Homo sapiens: one gene and its partners. The protein of the gene in region 2 purifies or fractionates together with the protein of the main gene of each other region. This does not show direct contact. Each region holds a gene or a part of one and is shown on either strand. Other genes may lie near its edges.

Evidence for each region. Proteins that work in one complex are often made in the same cells at the same time.
Region 1: the proteins of LGALS9 (region 2) and CD58 purify together in Homo sapiens (affinity purification with mass spectrometry; 4 studies listed by BioGRID and IntAct, with this or other methods). This does not show direct contact.
Region 3: the proteins of LGALS9 (region 2) and CLCN3 purify together in Homo sapiens (affinity purification with mass spectrometry; 4 studies listed by BioGRID and IntAct, with this or other methods). This does not show direct contact.
Region 4: the proteins of LGALS9 (region 2) and SLC12A4 purify together in Homo sapiens (affinity purification with mass spectrometry; 4 studies listed by BioGRID and IntAct, with this or other methods). This does not show direct contact.

What each region holds. Positions count from the first base shown.
Region 1 is NC_000001.11:116,564,527-116,568,026, forward strand, and holds part of CD58 (lymphocyte function-associated antigen 3), read right to left. Parts: intron 1-3,500. UniProt on the Homo sapiens protein: Ligand of the T-lymphocyte CD2 glycoprotein.
Region 2 is NC_000017.11:27,629,818-27,633,987, forward strand, and holds the start of LGALS9 (galectin-9), read left to right. Parts: upstream 1-1,370; 5' UTR 1,371-1,448; coding exon 1,449-1,487; intron 1,488-4,170. UniProt on the Homo sapiens protein: Binds galactosides. Has high affinity for the Forssman pentasaccharide. Ligand for HAVCR2/TIM3. Binding to HAVCR2 induces T-helper type 1 lymphocyte (Th1) death.
Region 3 is NC_000004.12:169,627,078-169,630,577, forward strand, and holds part of CLCN3 (H(+)/Cl(-) exchange transporter 3), read left to right. Parts: intron 1-3,500.
Region 4 is NC_000016.10:67,948,138-67,951,637, forward strand, and holds part of SLC12A4 (solute carrier family 12 member 4), read right to left. Parts: intron 3,168-3,500; coding exon 3,003-3,167; intron 2,924-3,002; coding exon 2,825-2,923; intron 2,575-2,824; coding exon 2,517-2,574; intron 2,357-2,516; coding exon 2,182-2,356; intron 1,782-2,181; coding exon 1,663-1,781; intron 23-1,662; coding exon 1-22. UniProt on the Homo sapiens protein: Mediates electroneutral potassium-chloride cotransport when activated by cell swelling. May contribute to cell volume homeostasis in single cells. May be involved in the regulation of basolateral Cl(-) exit in NaCl absorbing epithelia.

The DNA.
Region 1 (3,500 bases), on a different chromosome or scaffold from region 2:
TCACAGTTCCACCTGGCCAGGGAGGCCCCACAATCATGGCAGAATGCAAAGGAGAAGTAAGGCACATCTTACATGGCAGTAGGCAAGAGAGAGCTTGTGCAGGGGAATCCCCATTTATAAAATCATCAAATATTGTGAGACTTATTCACTATCTGAGAACAGTATGGGGGAAACTGCCCTTATGATTCAATTATCTCCACCTAGCCCTGCCCTTGACATATGGGGATTATTACAATTCAACGTAAGATTTGGGTGGGAACACAGAGCCAAACCATATCATGGGGTTTCAGCATGTTGCTTAGGATGGTCTCGAACTCCTGGGCTCAAAAGATCTGCCCACCTCAGCCTCTCAGTGCTAGGATTACAGGCATGCACCACCACTCTCAGCCAAGTTCATACTTTTGAGTTCTTGCTACTTGCCCAGCACTATCCAGGCCCTATCCACATGTCATTCCACTAATGCAAGCCCACACCAAATCCTGCCAGCTCCACCTTCAAAACACATCCAGATATCTCCCACCCCCAGTGATTCCTTTCCTGCATTGCCCCTGCAGCCTAACCAACCTCCCTGCTCTTCCTTTTCTCTCCTCTACAGACTATTCATCCAGCAGCCAGAATAATTCTTTTAAACATCCAAGTCATCATAATTTCACTCCTGTTCAAAATCCTTCAAAACTTTCCAGTCACTGAAAGCAAAAAGGCCAAAATATTTAAAAGGCCCTAAAAACTTTATCTACAGGATCCAACCCTGACTACTTTTATAACTTCATTTTCTACCACTCTCCACCACAATGGTATCCTTGAAGTTTCTTAAACGCTTGAAGCCTATCTCAGGGTCCTGAGTAGTAGACCTGGAATATCACTCCCCCAGATAGCCTTGTGGCCTATCTCTCACTTCCTTAAGTGTATGATCAATTGTCACCCTATTAAAGAGACCCTCCCTGACCACACTATGTAATACTAACCAGCAGAGGGTAGCTGAATGAACTACCATATAGCCACCCTATGAGGGACTGTACAGCTGTGAAAAAGAATGAGGTGGATCTCTATGAAGTGATAGGGAATGATTTTCCAGATGTATGGTTAAGTGACAAAAATGAGATACAAAAAAATACATAGAGTGTTACCTTGTTTAAGAAGGGTAGTTAGAAAAAAAAAAAAGAATCCAAATAACTTTTTTTTGTTTTGTTTTGTTTTTTTGTTTTTTTTTTTTGAGACAGAGTCTCACTCCGTCACCCAGGCTGGAGTGCAGTGTTGTAATCTTGGCTCACTGCAGTCTCTGCCTCCTGGTTCAGGCCATTCTCCTGCCTCAGCCTCCTAGGTAGCTGGAATTACAGGCGTGTGCCACCATGCCCAGCTAATTTTTTGTTTTAGTAGAGACAGGGTTTCACTGCGTTAGCCAGGATGGTCTCAATCTCCTGACCTTGTGATCCGCCCGCCTTGGCCTCCCAAAGTGCTGGGATTACAGTCATGAGTCACTGCACCCGGCCAGAATCCAAGTAACTTTTGAATATAGTATTGCATATTCACTGGGATATACAGATATTTCTTATTATGGAGTTATATCTTGAAAAACTCATTGTAGAGTTGAAAAATCTTAAGTCGAACCATTGCTAAGTTGGAGACTGTAATGAAAAATAAAAGGAACTGTAAAGAAATCTTTAACTGTATTTAGTAAGTTTGTAGTTGGTAGTAGATTGGTATAGCAACTGTAAAATGATTTGGGGTTTAATGTAGATTAGGAAAATATACTGATGCTACTAAGAACAGAGTTCTCACTGTGGGAGTAAGGAGATGCAAATATGGAAGAGCAGAAGAGGCAGAAGAACTAAGCAGCAAGATTATTAGTGTTAGAAGTATCAGGGTGAACTCCTGACTTTGTAAAAACTCTATTTCTTAACTTTGAAAACTGACAAGGCTGAGAAGCAATGACTCTGGTACCTGTGGGCACACTTTGCACCCAGAACTTGATTTCTAAATACCATCTCTCACTAAAAGAAACCAGGGAACCTAATGATTCGAAGGCTGAGGCAGGAACACTACAAGATGAGTCCAGAACATCTTTCTGTGCCAGAAAGTAAGGAAGTGTTTAAAATCAAACAGGAACAAACAGAGCAAAAGGACTCTGAAGCTTGAAGGTGTTCCCACTTGTCAAATGTGGGGTTGCCGAGCATCAAAATGGATGACAGGAATGCCATATTTAAAAAAGAATCCATGAGTCCACATAACCTTCTAAAATAAAAGAAAAAAAGGGAGGATGTGTGTGCAAAAGCTATCCATTACTGAACAATGTAAACTAATAAATATATATATAGAGAGAAACAGAAGAGAAAATTGCTGGGTGGCTCATGCCTATAATCCCGACACTTTGGGAAACTGACTTGGGAGGATTGCTTGAGCCCAGGAGTTCAAGACCAGCCTGGGCAACATGGCAAAACCCCGTCTCTATAAAAAATACAAAAAAATTAGGTGGACGTGAAGGCATGTCCCTGTAGTCCCAGCTATTTGGAAACTGAGGTGGGAGGATCGCTTGAGTCTGGGAGATCAAGGCTGCAGTGAGCCATAATTGTGTCACTATACTCTAGCCTGGGCAACAGAGTGAGACTGTGTCTCAAAAGAAAAGAGAAAAGGCAATGAAACAAAGAAGGAAAGAAGGGAAGGGAAGGGAAGGGAAGGGAAGGGACAGGAAGGGAGGGGGAGGGGAGGGAAAGGGAGGGGAGGGGAGGGAGGGAGGGGAGGGGAGAGAGGAAGGATGGAAGGAAGGGAGGGAGGGAGAAGAAAGGGACAAGGGTGGGGGAAGAAAATTACCATTTGAAAATATTTTAGTGGCTGGATGTGGTGGTTCATGCCTGTAATCCCAACACTTCGGTAGGCCAAGGAGGGAGGATCACTTGAGCCCAGGAGTTTAAGACCAGTCTGGGCAACATAGGGAAACCCTGTTTCTACAAAAACTAAAAAAAAATTAGCCAAGCATGGTGGCATGCACCTGTAGTCCTGGCTACTCAGAAGGCTGAGGTGGCAGAATTGCTTGAGCCTCAGAGGTCGAGGCTGGAGTTAGCTGTGATAGCACCCCTGTACTCCAGCCTGGGTGACACAGTGAGACCCTGTCTCAAAAAATAAAATAAAATATTTTAGTGATAATGGATTCTGGGAAGAATCACCATAGGATACTAAAACCACTGAATGAACAATGGCTGGAGAACAGGATATTCACTCAACCTCAAAACATCACTTAACACATCATTTATTACTTACAAAGGTAAAATGGTGCCTCTACAATGGAGAAATCTGGTAAACTTCACTTTAACCAAATGTCAAAGTTAACATCTCCAATAATGTGACAAACAGACCACATCTTCCTGATGTGACACACTGAGAAGGACCCAACATAGCTATGAAGTATTCCTGCTACAAAGAGTTACAACCAGAATCTGATCATGAGGAAACAAGCAGGCAATCCACATCCAAAGGGACATTCGGTAAAGCAACTAGCCCAGACA
Region 2 (4,170 bases):
GGGACAGGGTCTTCCAACCTTTCCCGAGCTGGTCTCAAGCTCCTGGGCTGAAGTGATCCTCCTGCCTCAGCCTCTCAAAGTGCTGGTATTATAGGCATAAGCCACCACGCCCTGCCCATTTTTCTAAGTTGGATTATTTTACACTCCAGTCTGCTGTGAATGAGAGTTCCAGTTGTTGCGTATCGCAATCAATTTGTGATTGCCTACAAATGATGTGCCGTGATGAAATTGTCCCTGGTGTCCGAGAGGATCGCAAAGAATTTCCCTTCCTTTCTCTCCTTTCTGCTCCCCTTGTACTGTCTACTCCTTAAACTGGTACTTGATCCAGGAACATAATGGGGATGGACAGTGCAGATGGCACACATGGCCTCAGTCTATTGGAGCATCTCAAAGGAATTAGTCTGCAAATTCTAGTGCATCTAGGTGGAGCACAGGAAGGAAGAGAGGTGCAGACTCACGTATGGCCCTGGGGCACCTGCCATCCTCTCGCACCCGTACAGCCCTTACCTGCCAGCACTTACCCTACCCAGCTTGAGTTCTGGGCCTTCTCACCAGCACATCGCTGGGACCTGGTCGACTTCAGGTAAGTTTATTTCATGGCTCCCTCCCCCACGACCTGCACATGCCATATGTTCCTTCCCAGCCCCATGTCACTTGAAATGTTCTATCATGTCCAAGACTTCTCTCCTCATCCTAAAGTGCAGAAAATAAGGATGGAGAAGAGAAGGAGAAGAGAATCAAGAGAGATTCATTGAGAGGGAGGATCAGAAGCTCCTGGGCACCCCATACTGTAGAATAAAAATATTCATTATGGTGTTTTTCTTGCAAAATATTCCCCTCTACATAATTATGTTTTTACATGAATAATATAAATTTAAACAGGAGAAATACTTTTTGAAGAGTCTGAGAATCTTCATAAAGTTCAGGCGGCCACGAATTAGCTGTGTGACCTGGGGCATGCCCCTTAGACTCTGAGCCTCAGCTTCTCTGTATGTAAAATGGGTTGAAGCCGCCCTTCCCCACAAGCACCCTGTGCACAGGCAATGCCCAGCCCCATTATTTTCTGGACTCCGTGGCCAAGCATGCTTAGGACACACAGCCACATACTTCTGGGCAGTGTCATCTGGCAACTTGCTGTCATGTCAGTGTGGTCAAGCATTGTAGACCTCTATGAACCAAATATGCTTCAGGCTTGGGTTGAGCACAGGAGAGGGAGGAGGGAAAGGTCACTGGGGCTGGGAGTGCCTACTTCCCTCTGTGAGTGTCACCCCAGTCCACCCAGTACCATACCTTTCTCTCTCTGGACCCACTTCCTTTTGCTGCCGGCTCCTCCCCATTGAATAACAGCCAAGTTGCTTTGGTTTCTATTTCTTTGTTAAGTCGTTCCCTCTACAAAGGACTTCCTAGTGGGTGTGAAAGGCAGCGGTGGCCACAGAGGCGGCGGAGAGATGGCCTTCAGCGGTTCCCAGGCTCCCTACCTGAGTCCAGTGAGTTCCAGGGCTATGGGCACAGGGCTGCCTCAGCCAGAGGGACACAGCTCTGGGGCTCTGAGGAAGCAACTCCTGGGTGGCAGGGGATGGGGGTGGGGGCATCCCAAAGAGAACACAAGCAGGGCAGAAATATCAGAGGAGGTCATCCTGGCACACCTGTGCCGTGCTGAGCTCACTCATGCCTGGAGGGATGCTCCTTCCCACGAGTCATGGCTTTGACAGTGTTGACTGAGCTGTCCTGTCCTGTCCTGTCCTGTGTGCTCAGGGGAAGACATGTAGAGCGGGGTGGTTCATGTAAAGAGGAAGCAAGCACGCTTCTGGGACAGTAAGGACGCTACCCGGCATGGTAGTTAAGGGTGCTTACTGTGAAGGTGGCCTCCCTGGGTCCAGCTATTTACTGGCTGGTGGTCTCTGGGCCTCAGTTTCCATATCTGTGAAGTGGGAATAATACTTGAGCCCCCCACTCCCAGGGTTGGGATATGGATTAAGGAAGTAGTGTATCTAGTGTGTTTGAACAGTGCCTGACACACTGTAGGTGCTTTGGGAGTGTTTCATGTTATTGGGTGTCTGAGGGCAGCAGGGAAGACCTCCCGAGGAGGTGTCTGTGCTCTGAAGGTTGGGCATGGGCATGTTCAGGGCATCTGTGGAGGGGCAGTCTCAGAGGTGAGAGGGGGGTGAGGACTGTCCCTGCAGCGTGGGGTCAGAGGGCGGCAGGTGCCTTGCTGAAACCCTGTGAGGTTTATGAGTCCCCTTCATACACGGAAAATCTGAGGCTCAGGGAGGCAGAGGCCAGTTGCCAAATGCCTCCAGATGGGAGTGGCAGCCCCAGGAGCCCAGGAGACTTCAGGGGTCACTGTGTCCTGGGCCGGCTCCTGTCATAGGATCTCACCCCGCCTTGGCAAAGAGCTTCCCGAGGGGCTGGAGAGGGTGGGCTGATGGGTCCTTCCTGGGTGGGGAGGCAGGGTGGGGAGGGTGGGCAGAGGCAGGGTACTGAGGGAGGGAAGCTGCCATGGCCCACCTCAGCAGAGGCCAGGGTCGGGCTTGAGTGCCCCCTGGTGACACTGAGTCCAGAATGAGGCTGCCTACGTTCTGGTCTGCAGAGCTCGGCTCTGCTTTCTAAACTCCAGAGAGAAAGAATGGGGAAAGGAGGCCTGTTTCCTCCTGGCTGTCACCAATGACACCTCAGCCACCCTGTGGAGGCCCCTGAGGTAGGACCTGCACAGAGGGGGCTGGGGGAAGCTGGAACAGGCCGCTGGTGGGGGCCTTAGGGTCAGCAGGTGCTGCCTTGGGCATGTCACCCTGTCTCTGGTTTTCTGTCAAAGAGGGGATCCCAGAGCTTCTTCCAGGTTCTGACATATTATTATTCTGGTGACTGGTTTTTACTTTCTAATCCTTGGATTCAGAAGGAAAATTATCCTACGGACATCAGAGAGTTAAAACAGGGCCTTGGAGTCCAGACAAGAAAGATGATCAGTGCAGCCCCTATGGGTGTCCAGAGTACCCCTCTACCCCACGGGGGCTCCCCTGGGTTGGGACAATTAAGCCTCACTTGGTGACCCATCTGGCAGTCGGAGCCACGCTTCCTCCACATGCCGACAGTGGGGGAAGGTCACGCGGTTCGCTGTCCTGCTGAGGAGGGCTGAGTGCCATGAGGGCCTGGCTTGGAAACCTCACTCCCACTTCTTGTCTGGCCTCATCTAGCCCAGCCTCTTTGGAGGGCCTGGGGGAAGCTGGAACCACGTGCTGTGTGGTCCAGGAAGCACTGGGAGAGCCAGGAATAAGGATGTTCTCAGCTTACTCATGAGAGGAAGCCTGTGTGGTGGTTAGAAGCGTGGGTGCTGGGGTTCAAATCCCAGCTCTGTTGCTGACCAGTTGTGTAACTTTGAGCAAGTGACTGAACTTTTCTGTGCCTCAGTTTCCTCATCTGTAAAAGTGGCCGGGGTTGCTGTGAGGATAAATGTTCCTAGTCATGCCCAGAGCCCTCATGGACACACATGGATCCAAATGCCACAGCAGCCTTAGCTGGTCAACCTCAAAACAACACATTTGTTCTTACAGTGTTGGAGGTCAGAAGTCTAAAATCAAAGTGTCATGGAAGGTGGCCAGCAGGACCATGGAGCCTCTGAGGCAGCGGGGCACCTTGGCTAAGAGCCACGTACTGGCCTCCTGCTGGCACGCAGTCTTGGCCAGCCAGGCTGAGCTCCCCACTTCGGGGTCGGGCCTGGGTGTCCTCTGGTGATGCTGAGTCCAAAACAAGGCTGCCCACATTTTGGTTCACAGGGCTCAGCTCTGCTTTCTAGACTTCCAGATAAGAAGAGGAGGAAAAGTCCCCGGTCTCTGGGCACTATCAGGAACAGAGAGCAAGTCATGACTCAGCAGAGGGATCGATTTGTTCAATGCAAAGAGCTGCACTGTCATGTCTGACATGAGCCAGGGGCTCAGCACACGGAATCGCACCCAGTCCTCTCAGAACGCTGCCAGCCAGGGGCTCAGCACACAGCGTTGCACCCAGTCCTCTCCAGAACACTGTCGGGTGGTGTTACTGTCCTGCCATTCAGAGGAGGGAACTGGGGCACAGGCAGGTCAAGTGACTTGGCCAGTGTCAGAATTGCTAGTGTACAGAGCTGGGAGGCAAGCCCAGTCCCGTGGGACCATAAATCCAGTGTGAAAATCCATCCTC
Region 3 (3,500 bases), on a different chromosome or scaffold from region 2:
TCTAAAGTTCTTCATGGTTTCCCCTGTGTATAGATGAGTATGTAAGTTTCTTAGTGTGACACATGAACCCCTCCCCTTCATGATCTGGCCTATGTCTGCCTCTGTAGCTACTCTCTGGTCCTTTACCTCTTACATAAGCTACCCAAGCAGGTTTTACTATGATGCTTTTATGCTGTTGCGCATACTTTTTTTGTGTGTGTGCCTGTATTGACTTTTTACCTCACAGCCCAATTAATTTATCCTAATTCTTCAATATTTTGCTAAAATATTCCCTCTATTAAGTGCTTACGGACTGTGTGCCAGCCAGCTTGCTTACTTTTCTCAGGTTTATCAAATACATTGTATGTACCTCTCCTGTGATGTGTATCATACCATATTGTTGTTACTTGTTGATGTCTGTCACCTTCACTGCCTTAGGAACAGAAACCATATCTTATTCATTACCCTAGCATCTGGCTTTGTGCCTGGTACATGCTAAGTGTGCAGTCAATGATTATCAAATAAATTAATAAATGACTCCAAAAACTAGCTTTGAATACTAGATAAATGGTGATCCTGTAAACTGAGATAGGAAAAGTAGGAGGACAAGGACTTTTGGGGCAAATATTTATTTAGTTTAGGTCTTGTTGAGTTTTAGCTCTTTTACAACATCAAGGAAGACATGTACCATTTATTTCTTATACATTTGTTATTTATTCATACAATATAATTAACCCAACAAGATTTTTTTTAGATATGGACAAGATTATTCTAAAATTTACATGAAAAGGCAATGAAAAAGAAGAATAAGGTGTGAAAGATCAATCTACTCAATTTCAAGACTTATTATGTAGTTACAGTAATCAAGACTGTGTGGTATGGGCATAGATAAAGACACAGATCCGTGGAACAGAACAGAGAACTCTGAAATAGATCCACATAAATATACCTAGTTTTTGTCAAAAGCATGAAAACAGTTCAACGGAGGTAGATAACTTTTTCAACAGTTGGTACTGGAGCAATTAGACATCCATACACTGTCCCATTCCCAACCCCCCAATAAAGGAACCTCAACCTATGTCTCATACCCTGTGCATGCACAAATTAAAATGGATCACAGACTGAAATATAAAAATATTAAACTATAAAATTTTAGGAAAAATAGAAGAAAATTTTGGGGAGGTAGGGTTAGGCATATGTTTCTTTGACTTGCCACCAAAAGAATACTCCTTAAAGGCAAAATTGATAAATTAAACTTCATCAAAATTAAGTATTTTTGCTCTGTTATAGACCCTGTTAAAAAGATGAAAAGATAAACTAGAGAGGGGAGAAAATATTTGCAGACAACACAACTGACAAATAACTAGTATCTGTAATATATAAAGAACTCTTAAAAGTCAACAGTATGAAAGCAGTCCAGCTAGAAAACGGACAAAAGACATAGTCATTTCACTGAAGAGGATTACACATATAGCAAATGAGCACATAAAAAATGTTCAGCATCATTACCCATTAGGGAGATGCAGATTAAAGCAACAAGATACTACCGTACATCTATCAGAATAGCTAAAATAAGAAATAGTGACAACACCAAATGCTGGCAACGAGGTCAAGAAACTGGATCACTCATACATTGTTGGTAGAAATGTACAATGGTACAGCCACTCTGGAAAACAATTTGGCAGTTTCTTTAAAAAACAAATATGTGACTACTGTATGACCCAACTATTGTACTCTGACATTTAGCCCAAAGAAATAAAGGCTATTCATTTTCAAAAACCTGTACATGCATGTTTGTAGCAGCTTTATTCATAGTCACCAAAACATAGAAACAAGCCAGATGTTCTTCAGTGGGTGAATGGTTAAACAAACTGTGGCATATCTGTTATCATAGACTACTCTGATAAAAAGGAAGGAACTATTGACACATGTAACACCCTGGATGAATCTCCAGAGAATTGTGCTGAGAACAAAGAGTTAATCCCCATATCATATCATTTATATAACATTCTTGAACTGGCAAAATTATTGAAGTAGAAAACAGACTATGGGTTGCTAGGGGTTAAGGAGGGATGGCCATAAAACGGCAACATGAGAGATACCTGTGGTGATGGAATATTCTGTATCTTGACTGTATCAATGTCCTTATCTTGATTGTGATATTGTACTATAGTTTTGCGAGATGTTCCCATTAATGGAAACTGGGTAAAAGATATACAGGATTTTTTTCTGTATTATTTATTGTAACTACATGTGGAACCACAATTATCTCAAAATAAAAATTTAATTAAAAAAATTGAACATCTACTGTGACACATTTTTTTTTTTTGAGGCAGATCTTGCTCAGTTGCCCAGGCTGGAGTGCAGTGAGTGGTGTGATCTCAGCTCACTGCAACCTCTGCCTCCTGGGCTCAAGTGATTCTTCTGCCTCGGCCTCCTGAGTAGCTGGGATTACAGGCACTCACCACTATGCCCGGCTAATTTTTGTATTTTTAGTAGAGACGGGGTTTCACCATGTTGGCCATGCTGGTCTTGAACTCCTGACCTCAGGTGATCTGCCCTCCTGGGCCTCTTAAAGTGCCGAGATTACAGCTGTGAGCCACTGCGCCTGGTCTAATGTGACATATTTTGCTAACCATTGAGTATACAGTGTTGAGCAAAAATTGAGTGTCAGACCTCATGACACGTTCTACAATGGCAGACAGATATTAAATAATCACAGAAATAAATTTAATATTCAACTGTGGTAAGTGCTGTAAAAGAGAGCTATAAGAACTAATAATGAGAAAATTTGATCCAGATAGTAAGTGGGTCAGCGAAGCTTTGCTTACTAACTGCATGACTTTGGGCGAGTTATTTACATGCTTTGTGCCTCAGTTCCTCATTTTTAGTGGGGACAATAATAGCACCTATTCTTTAAGGTTGTCATATATTTAATATGAATATTAAATGAATGAATTTGTAAAGGGCTTAAGATATTGCCTAGCATATAGTAAGCTCTGGTTAAGAGTTTGTTAAATAAAGGGATACTTGATGTAAGACCTTGTAAGAAAAATGAGTAGGAGAGTTAATTCTTTTTTATTTTTACAATTTCAACTTTTATTTTAGATGTGCAGGTTTATTCCATGGGTATACAGCATGATGCTGCGGTTTGGGGTACAGTTGTACCCATTACCCAGGAAGTGGGTATAGTGCTCAACAGTTTTTCAGCCCTTGCTTCCTTCCCTACATTGCCCGCGCTGGTAGTCCTCAGTGACTATTGTTGCCATCTGTACATCTGTGAGTACCTGATGTTAAAGCTCCCACTTAAAATGAGAACATGCTGTATTTGGTTTTCTGTTACTGTGTTAATTCACTTAGGATAATGGTCTCCAGCAGCATCCCCATTGCTGCAAAGGACTTGATTTTATTCTTTTTATGGCTGTGTAGTGTTCCATGGTGTATATGTACCATATTTTCTTTTCTTTCCTTTTTTTATTTTTATTTTTTTTTGAGACAGAGTCTTGTTCTGTCGCCCAGGC
Region 4 (3,500 bases), on a different chromosome or scaffold from region 2:
CAGGTAGCACATCAGAAAGAACCTGCGGCACAGAGGGCGGTTGGCGAAGAGCAGCCTCCTCGGCAGCTGGGGACCTGATGTCAGGCTGGGCCTGGCCCAGAAACGGGGCGTGGCCCGGCCCTGCCCTGCATGGCTCAGCAAGGTCTTCTCAACCTCATTGCTGCCACCTCCATGGCCTGAGGCAATGAGACTACTGTGGAGGAGTCCTCGGAGCCAGATCGCAGAGGATGGGCAAGGGTTTGCTGTTGGAGGAGGTAGGAAGGGGAGTAACAGGGCAGAGCTGAAGAGGGTGGTGCAGGGGCAGCAGGAAGAGCTCAGTGCCTGGAGACTCTAGGCCACATTCAGGCCTCTGGCCTGAGTGACCAGCTGGATGAGAGGCTGCCATGCATGAAGGGGAGGATGGAAGATAAGCTGGACCATTTGAATGCAACCAGTCAGAGATACTTAAGAGTCACTGCGGTGGGCGTGGGAGTCCCACGCATGGGCAGGGCCAGCTGCATGAGCCCTCCAGGAAGGCACCCGAGGACGGGTGCGCAGGAAGGCAGGAGGACCCACACAGGGCATGCCAGGGGGCAGGGGCTCCCAGCAGGAGGCCCGAGATAAAGGCTGAGATGTAGCCTCTGATTTGGGCACAAGGGGGGTCACCACCCAAGATGGCTGTGGCAAAACAGTTTCAGGTGTGCTCTTGGGTGAGAGGAAGGGGTGTGGGGGGGTGGACAAGAGGGTGCTGGCTCCAGCAGGCCTGGCTGTAGCTGGGATGGAGCCTGCTCAGGGGTACAGGGCCCCTGTCAAGTCTGCAGGCTGAGTGGGCAGGGAAGAGGAGGCCTTTCATAACCGCACAAGCAAGAAGGAGCGTCAGCCACGGAGCAGGGTGGGCGAGGACCCCAGCCTGGACAGAGTCAACCAAACAAGCGCTGCCTCGGGGTCCCTGGGAGTCACCACATGCTGGCCACTCCCTGCAAGGCACTGGCACGCAGATTTGCCTGGCTGATTCCAGAATGTTAAAAGCAAATGACTTTGAAAATGGATGGGTTGGGCATGGTGGCTCACGCCTGTAATCCCAGCACTTTGGGAGGCCGAGCCAGGTGGATCATCTGACGTCAGGAGTTCGACACCAGCCTGGCCAAGATGGTAAAACGCCATCTCTACTAAAAATACAAAAAATTAGCTGGGCGTGGTGGTGCATTTCTGTAATCCCAGCTACTCAGGAGGCTGAGGCAGGAGAATTGCTTGAACCCAGGAGGCGGAGATTGCAGTGAGCCAAGATCATGCCATTGCACTCCAGCCTGGGTGAGAGAGTGAGACTCTGTCTCAAAAAAAAAAAACAAAAACCAAAAAACAAACTAACAGATGGAAGGGGCAGCAGTGGCTTCATGGAGGCATGAGGGACGCGGTGGTTGCCCTGTCCAGTGGGAAGGTCTGCCGGCCACCTGCTCTGGGGGCCTCAGGGAGGTGTGGACATATTGGTCACCTTATAGCTTTGGCATAGGTGCCAGGCTTGCTCCTAAATGCAGGGGTGGGCTGAGCCCTGTCAGGCCACATCTCCCCATGCAGCCTGCCACATCTCCCAGCTGGACCTCCAACACCAGACGCAGCCACGGGGAGGTGCTGGGGTTCAGGAAGCCTTTCCCCATCCCCCTGCCCTGCCCGGCCCCAGCTCACATGGATAAGATGGGGGCCACCATGTCGAGGGAGGCGATGAGGATGCCCAGCTCGGCGATGAGTGCCGTCAGGAGGAGTGCCCATGTGGGTTCACCATTCACCTTCCCGTGGCCAAACACCTGTGTGCACCAGGAAGGAAGCTGGGTCCTGTCACCCCCATTCCACACCTTGGGCCCCAGACCCCAGCCTGGCCTCCCTCACCCCCAGGGCCCGCCTTGGGGGCTCAGGCCGCCCCTGTGTCTATCCCTATGGGTGTCACCAGTCTCCCTGATTCCACCTCACCAGGCCTCTCTCCTTTGGATGAGCCCTAAACAGGCCATGAAGATTCTGGGTCCAGGCAGCTCCAGGCCCAGGTGAGTGCCAGGCCCAGGGCACTTCTCAGTAGCTCCTCATGGATGGCCGCCTGGCCCCGGGGGCCAATAAGGGCAGGACGTGCTGCATCTGTGTTCCCTATCTCTCTCCCCAGCCGGGCGAGGGCCTGGGAGCAGCCAGGCCATGGGGGAGTGCAGAGGGGCTCACCCGGAGGAAGGGGATGATGTTGTCCTTGGCAATGGCCTGCAATAGGCGTGGTGCCCCTGTGAGGCTCTGGAGGCCAGCGCCACACGTTGAAAAGAAGGAGCCGATGACGATGACCCAGGGTGAAGGCCAGGCCAGTGTGCCCACCACCAAGTTCCTGCTGACACCATCGCCATACCTGCAGGGGCCACCAGAGTGAGGGATGTCAGGGGTCCGGAAGGATGGCACAGACCACCAAAGGCAGCCAGCAGGCTTAGGACCACCCACGGGGTTGGGAGCTGGTGTGAGGGCAGGCCAAAGCCCAGCCGCTGCTAAAGAGGGGGGCCCAGCTCACTCACTTGTCCCGGAGAACCACACCCTCAATGCAGGCACCAAAGAGAACCACACTGCTGAAGTCTGCGGCGGCGTCAAGGAAAACTCGGCCTCTGCCACCCCACTGTCCCTGAATAGTACCACGTGCCCCCACCCCAGCCAGACTACCAGGACACCTACAGCTGGGAGTCTCGTGGTGTGTATGTGCATGTGTGCATGAGAAGGGGAGCTATATATGAGTGTGTGGGGTGTCTGTGCATGTGACCTGGCAACGTACACAGGCCAAGCGCTTCCCGTCCTCTGCCCCACCTGCCCCAGGCCTGGGAAAGGATACACACGAGGGAAGTTGTAATGATGGCCAGAATGGTCCCCACAGGGATAGACTTCTGGGCGTCACGAAGGTCCCCAGAGCGGTTTGAGCCAGCCATGATGCCTCCAAAAACAGATGAGACTCCCTCAGGGGCTCCCCGGGATTGGGGACAGGGCTGGGTGGGTAGGCAGGCAGGGCTCACCTGTTACAGAAGGGAAGAAGATGCCGACCAGCACGGTGAAGGATGTGGCGATGTCAGCGACCACGTACAGAGGCAGGCTCTCCTTCAGGCTCGGGGCATCTGCGGAGGGCAGCCCATGCTTCTCCACGATGTCACCCTTCTCCAGGTAGGCGCTCCACAGGTTTTCTGCAGGGGTAGCTGTGTCACCACCACAGCTGCCCCCCACTACCCCAGGTAGTTTGGGGCAGCCTAGCCAGAGGCGCAGATGCAGGGCAACTTTGGGGACTCAGGGAACAGCTTCAGCCCAATGACTGCAGCGTCAGCCACAGGGCTACCCTGACCACAGAGAAGGAGCTGCCCAGCTAGAAGTCGACAGACAAAGGTGGCTGAACCACCGTCACCCAGAGCCCGCCACTGCCCGCCTTCCACAGAGGCCTTTATGGATCCTGTGGGAACATCCCCAGGCAGTGTCAGGGGCTGGTGGCTGGGGAAGACAGGCTGCTGCAGGCCTTGGACGCT